Homo sapiens: one gene and its partner. The protein of the gene in region 1 purifies or fractionates together with the protein of each later gene. This does not show direct contact. Each region holds a gene or a part of one and is shown in the gene's direction. Other genes may lie near its edges.

Region 1 (3,654 bases):
TCTTCATCTTTATTTACTCTATCATTTATTTAACCAGTATGGATGTAGGGATTTCTTTTTTATATTTTGGGTTATAATCCAGCATAGTTTTATTGGTTTAATTGTTCCAGCCTTGATCTTGAGAGCTATTTAAGTTGGCTCCTATATCCCTAACATAGCCACATCACTGTGATTTTCTGACTTCCTAAATCATTTTTTTAAAATTGATATGCATTAAGGTTTACACCTTGCTCTGTAAAGTGCTATGGGTTTTAGCAAATGCATAATGTCATGTATCCACCATCATAGTATTATAAAGGATAGTTTCTTTGACCTAAAAATCCCATGTTTCACCAATTCAACTCTTTCCTTTACCTTTCATCTTTTTACTGTCTCCACAGTTTTGTCTTTTGCAGAATGTCATGTAATTAGAATTATACTTTGTGTGTGTGTTTGTGTGTGTGTGGTGGGAAGAGGCTCTCCAGTTTTGGAAAGGAGGGTGCAGAGAAGAATTTAAGACTTTTGTATTTTAATTTGACGAAACCTTGAGTGTGGATTTTTTTTTAATCTTTACACTTACACCTGTTATTTGTACATTTCTTCTGAATTTTTGTGTGTATTTTCTTCAGAGTGTTTAGAATTATGGATGACGATAATAATCGAACCCTTGATTTTAAAGAATTTATGAAAGGGTTAAATGATTATGCTGTGGTCATGGAAAAAGAAGAGGTGGAAGAACTTTTCCGGAGGTTTGATAAAGATGGAAATGGAACAATAGACTTCAATGAATTTCTTCTCACATTAAGAGTAAGTGGCCCCATTAATCAGTGTATCTGCTGAGTTTGGCTTTCACGTGGTTTGGGTTGGCTACCTTGAGGTTTTGTTTTTACAAGTTGTTAGTACACTGTGGGGAGGGGGATAAGCAGAAAACTGTGAACAGACTTAGGAATTTTTGGAGCAATTGTAGTGTCTATTACATAATAGCACACAAATATTATTTCACATCGTTGAGGGGAATGAGATATTTTATCACATAGGATACCAAAAAAGCTCATTTGCTTATGTATGTCTCTGTATGTATTCTTCTATTTTTGTAGCCTCCAATGTCCAGAGCCAGAAAAGAGGTAATCATGCAAGCTTTTAGAAAGTTAGACAAGACTGGAGATGGTGTTATAACAATCGAAGACCTTCGTGAAGTATATAATGCAAAACACCACCCAAAGTACCAGAATGGGGAATGGAGTGAGGAACAAGTATTTAGGAAATTTCTGGATAACTTTGATTCACCCTATGACAAAGATGGATTGGTAAGTAAAAGAGCCTAATCTAGGGGAAATTTCTTCAATTCGAAATTGTAAATGGGAAATAGGTCCAAACTCTTAAAAATGTTAACACATTGATACCATATTTGTTGTAAATAGAAGTAAACTATTTCCCTAGGAACAATCTAGAAACTTCTCCATTGCCAGGGGAAACCTTCATGTTACTTTAGTTGAAACCTAATGTATGTTTGTGCACGCACACACTCATAGACATATATTGAAATATATTGGTAGGGGATCCACATAAGTGATGACCTGTCATCTGGGGAATGTGATGTTCTGATTAAACATGCCATTTTATGGTTACTATATTTACCATACTCAGCTAGTTGCACTCCAGTGAACTGATTATAATAAAATATATTTAACTTTGAAATGAGATCATAATTTAATTTTGGAGAACAGATTTACAAGGCCTTTCAGGATGTTTTAGTGCCTTCACACTCATCCTCATTCATCTTCACACTTTGCTATGTGGAAATGCCATTTAAAGGTAGTTTTTGGTAAAGGGAATGTCAAATAACAGAATTTACTCTGATTTATTCTTTAGTGTGCTTTGAGATTAACTTACATTTCTAAACTGCACTGAATTTGAAAACAAAATCAACCGCCCATCTCCATTAACTTTTATCTTCAAGTTACAAATGCATAGCTTGGTAGGGTAAGGAATTATATAGCTCCATGACTGTGTCTAGGCTGAGATGAAAATGTCATCTGTCCTTTATCAACAGCCCTAAATTGACTTTTTAGAAAAAAAAAAAAAACCCTGAGCCAGTTCTGTTCTTAGATGATCTAAGGGTTTTGGTGATAAGGAAAGGGGATTGTCCCTTGAGTAACAGTCAGCAGCAGCACAGCCCCAGGGTTCATTGTCTCTTAAGCCCTTTACAGCACAGGAAAAGATAAGTGGCCCAGTGGACAAGAAGAGAGTGGTTAAGGGAAGAAGAAATAAACCTTCCTCTTCTGAAGGGAATGTGCTCCAACTTTTTAAATGAAACTTCATGATGAGTCTCATTAGCAAGGGGTGGGGGATAGGAAGGTGACCTTTCTGTTCTTCCTGCTGACATTTCCCTTTCAGGGATGGAGACATACCCTCTATTTCAGGCTGAGGATTGTGGAGGCAGGTTTACAAAAGGGCCAAAATTCAATAGGGCAGCCAAAATCTTAGGGACAGAAATAAAAACTACATGTTTTCTTCCAGTATTGCTGGCCTTGATCACTGAGATGTCAGTGGAAAAATAGCCAACTGCCATTTCCCCAAATTAGCCCACCCCTTTGTGGATCCTAGAGTGTGTCTGCTTCCTCTCTGCAGGTGGTTCCTCCTCATTGCCAGGGGAAACCTCAGCTACCCTTTTCTCTAACAAAAGTCAAAATAGCCAGTTGTGATTCGGCTGATTCAAGTCTGCACATCACCCCTTTTGATATTTATCTTAAGAAGCCACATTAAGCTCTCAAAAGCTCATAAAGGTTATTGAGGTTTTTAGCAGTTATAGCACTTGATGTCATCTGCATGTTACAGACCCTGTATTGATACCCAACTCTGGCTGTTCATAATCATCATCAGGGAGGATTTATTAGTAATGTAGATTCCTAGCTGCACTGCAGAACCACAGAATCTGATTTTTTGGAGGATGGAGTCCAAGGCTTTACATTTTAATGTGTACCAGATGACTCTTACACTCACGTGTATTTGTGATCCTTAGCTCTAAAAGATTCAGAAATAACTGTTTTAAAATTACTAAATATAATATACACATGACCCCATTTAGCATAATAATGAATCTGGGCAACACTTTTTGAGCACATATCAACTGGGCATTTGCTAAGGGCTTACCAGGGATATCTCATTTAATAGACATAATAAAAGTGTTTCTGAAAAGTGATGTGTAATTCAAACTTTCGCACACTGAATTGTATTTTAAATGCACAAGAAATTGTTGTTGTAGAGGAACTCCATGGTAAATTCTTTTATGAGAAGAATAATTAGCTTCTAAAATTTACCTCTTGCAAATTGCACTATTTTGCATATTAAGATTGCTTGTGGTGAAGCATAGCTGTACTTGAAGCCAGTGTGCTCATTTATGGTTAAAAACATCCCATATAAGACAAAATTTAAAATAATGCAAAAAATTTAGCATAGCTCCTAGCTAAAGGTAATGTTCAAACTTGATAATCTAGGTTAAACTCTCAAATACCCATAAAGGTTGCTGGAGTTTCAGCAGTCACGGAATTTGATGTCATAAATCTTGCACTAATACCTCACTGGACTCCCATAGCAGCCGGAAGCCATTTGGATGGAGGTGTGAAGCAATCAGATAACCTGTGACACAGACTTTCCTTACCCCTTTTCTATCAC
Region 2 (3,654 bases), on another chromosome or scaffold:
ATAAAACACCATAGAAAGGAAAGAAGAATAGAAAAATAAATTATCTTTAGCCCATTTGTATGCAGCTGATGTTAACATGTTAATGTACTTGTTCTTAGTCTTTTCCTATGCTTAGTTTTTTAATAGTTAAAATCATACTGCAGACATAATTTTGCATTCTGTTTTTTTCGTTGGATCCTAACCTTTTTTTTTTTTTCCCACTTGAACTCAGATTTTTCTGATGGAGTCCAGTGGTCTTTTCTCTACTCCAATACTGACTCTTTATAACCCTCAGGTACATACCTGAATCTGAACTTCTCTCCTGAATCAGCTTCTTTTCCTTATTTCCCACTGACTGTATCACCCAGTTTGAAATTTCAGAATCATGTTTTGATTCTTTGCCATTTTTGCCTAGGGCATTAGAATCTCTTCTAAGACTTGTCAATTCTTGTCACCTTTTCTCATCCCTTTTCTTTTCCACCGCTATAGTTCAGGTACTTATTATTCGATGCGTGGATTATTGCATGGCGTCGAGAATCTCCACCTGTCCAGTTTATTTTGTACAGGGCCCTCAGATTTATCTTCCTAAAGCCATGCTTTGATTGTGCTATTCACCCTCTCAGATTGCTTCATTGCTTTAATGACTACATTCAAACATCTTAGCCTCTTAACATCTTCTCAAGTCCTCTGTCATCTCTTTCTACTGTCTTACCATGTTCTGACCAAAATGACCTATTTCTTATTCCTCACATTTTCATCTTTTCATCCTGATGACTATTCTCAGTACCCTTCAAGGCTCAACTCAAATATTATTTCCTTTCTAAAAATGTTTACTTCTTTTCATTCCCAGCCCAAAGTATTCTTCCGTGAACACTTGATAGGACCACTCTTGGGGTACTTATTGCAGAATGTTTATTCCAATAGTTATAAGGTGAAAGTAATTATTACAGATCTTACAATTGTTATGTCTTATTTCCCTGAGCCAAATTGGTTTTATTTTTATTTATTTATTTTTTTATGAGACAGAGTTTTGCTTTGTCGCCCAGGCTGGAGTGCAGTGGTATGATCTCAGCTCACTGCAACCTCTGCCTCCTGGGTTCAAGGAATTCTCCTGCCTCAGCCTTCCGACTAGGTGGTGTTACAGGTGTATGCCACCACACCCAGCTAATTTTTGTATTTTTAGTAGAGACGGGTTTCACCATGTTGGCCAGGCCTGTCTCAAACTCCTGACCTCAAGTGATCTGCCCGCTGAGGCCTCCCAGAGTGCTGGGGGATTGCAGGTACCATGCCTAAGCCAAATTATAAACCTCTTGAAGGCTGTATTGAAGGTTTTATTGAAGGCTGAAACTCTCATGTGTCTTTGAAGTCTTGCAGTGGAGATTTCATGATCCAGTAAAATGTGGAGGAAATAAATTAGGGACTAGTATATAGTTGACAACTTAACAACCTTCACTTTCATACCTCTTTTTTTTTTTAAAGAAATGACATTTGAAGACCAAAAGATTGTAATACACAATCTCAGAATAAAAAATTGTAAAATTACTTTGAAAATTAAATATGGCTCACGCCTGTAATCCCAACAGTTTGGGAGGCTGAGGCGGGCGGCTCACTTGAGCTCAGGAGTTTGAGACCAGCCTGGGCAACATGGTGAGAACCCGTCTCTACCAAAAGTACAAAAAAATTAGCCAGGCATGGTGGTGCACGCCTGTGGTCCCAGATACTCGAGAGGCTGAGGTGGGAGGATTGCTGGAGCCTGGGAGGTGGAGGTTGCAGTGAGCGCAGATCACACTACTGGGCTCCAACCTGGGTGACACAGCGAGACCCCGTCTCAAACAAGCAAACAGACAAACAAAAACTCATTATGTTCTTATTTCTCATTTCACCTGAAATAAGTGAAATGTTCTAGACTTTATTGGGAATCTGATAAAGAATTCTGTGCCAGATTCTAGGGTATTTTCAAGTACAAGTCATGTGCATGACCTGTTAATGGTTTTTGAAATCAGTTTAGTCGTGGTCAGGACCAACATTAGAAAAATGAGGAGAAGAGGAAGAGATAATGTAAAATATCAGTACTTCGTGTGATATTGCTTCATGGAACATTTAATTTCAGTTACATATATTTGTCTTAGATTTCAGTGTAAAATTTCTGTTGGTCACAATCAGATGAAAGATACATTTTTAGTGGCTAATCCCTATCTTTGAGAGAATAGGTGGAAAGGTTGACATACATGAAAAGGTGGATGAACAATCAGAAGTAATCATTGCGGGCTATGTCTTTGACAAGTTTTTAGAATCTGAATATAATTAGAATATGTTTAACAGCAGCAGCAGCAGAAAGATATTTATTAGTTGTAGAATCAGTGTAATTCAGGCAAACTCAGTATGTAAAGAAGTGATTTTATAAAATTGGTAGGGCTAGGGTATGTTTACCTTGCAAATCAATTCTTTACTTTGAAAGAGAATTTTCAGGCCAGGTGGTATAGCTCACACCTATAATCCTAGCACTTTGGGAGGCCAGGGTAGGAATATCACTTGAGGCCTGGAGTTCAAGACCAGTCTGGGCAACATAGTGAGACCCTGTCTCTACCAAAAAAAAAAAACAAACAAAAATTAGCTGAACGTGGTGGTGCATGCCCAGCTCCTTGAGAGGCTGAGGTGAGAGGATCGCTTGAGCCCAGGAGGTGGAGGCTGCAGTGAGCTATGATATGCCACTGCACTCCAGCCTGGGCAGCAGAGCGAGCAGCGAGACCCTGTCTCAAATAAGAAAGAGGATTTTCCTTGTTTGTAGTGTGGTGAGTATCCCCCGTGTGGTGCCTGTCACGTGAGAGATCCCTGGGAGCCAAAAACAACAACTGCAAAAAAGAGGATTTACCATATTGCTGTATTTTATTTTTAAGCTGATCTGATGGAGTTGTCTGTGTCTTGACTGGTTCCCCACTTATTTGCTGAAATACATTTTTTCCCCAGGAAGCTGTCCCTGATTGGTACACTCAAACCATTGCACTATAGCGCTTCTAAAGTGGAGGGGGCTGAGCACTTACACCTAAGGGATCTGGGAGTGTAGGCAAAAGTTGAAATCTATTTAACTTTAAAATTTATATGATTGTTTTGCATCCATTATAATAAAGATTTGTTTAGACAGGAATCATCAATAGGTGCTAAATCTAGGGGGATATTTTGGTGAGAAGCAGGTTGTCTGCATGGTCTTAAATTTCCCCCCATATAATGCTTATTACTTGTAAGGGGGGGAAACAGTAACTCAATATGGTGGTGAAATCAGACAACACCTTGTGTGCATGATCAAAATAAATATCACCAATGGATTTGTGTGTCTCTGCATGTGATACCCAGAAAAGAGCACATCAGTTACAGTGTTTTTCAGCCATGAATTCATAGCCTGAATCTAATCATGAGGAAATTTTAAACTCCAGATGGGGAACATCCTATTTTTTAAAACGTCGGGGAGCTGGGTTTTTTTTTTTTTTTTAATATTATAAAGACAAAGTCTGTGGAAACATTCCAGACTAAAGAAGACTTAAGAGATGTGGTAACTAAATGAACTACCTGATTTTAGACTGGATCTTGTATAGAGGGGAAAATACAATAAAGGATATTATTGGATCACTTGGCAAAATTGGCATGTGGATGGTGGTAAGTATTGCATTAATGTTTATT

Evidence for each region.
Region 2: the proteins of CAPSL (region 1) and EML4 purify together in Homo sapiens (affinity purification with mass spectrometry; one large-scale study listed by BioGRID and IntAct). This does not show direct contact.

The regions. Positions count from the first base shown.
Region 1 is NC_000005.10:35,907,498-35,911,151, reverse strand, and holds part of CAPSL (calcyphosin-like protein), read left to right. Parts: intron 1-608; coding exon 609-786; intron 787-1,076; coding exon 1,077-1,286; intron 1,287-3,654.
Region 2 is NC_000002.12:42,175,814-42,179,467, forward strand, and holds part of EML4 (echinoderm microtubule-associated protein-like 4), read left to right. Parts: intron 1-3,654. UniProt on the Homo sapiens protein: Essential for the formation and stability of microtubules (MTs). Required for the organization of the mitotic spindle and for the proper attachment of kinetochores to MTs. Promotes the recruitment of NUDC to the mitotic spindle for mitotic progression.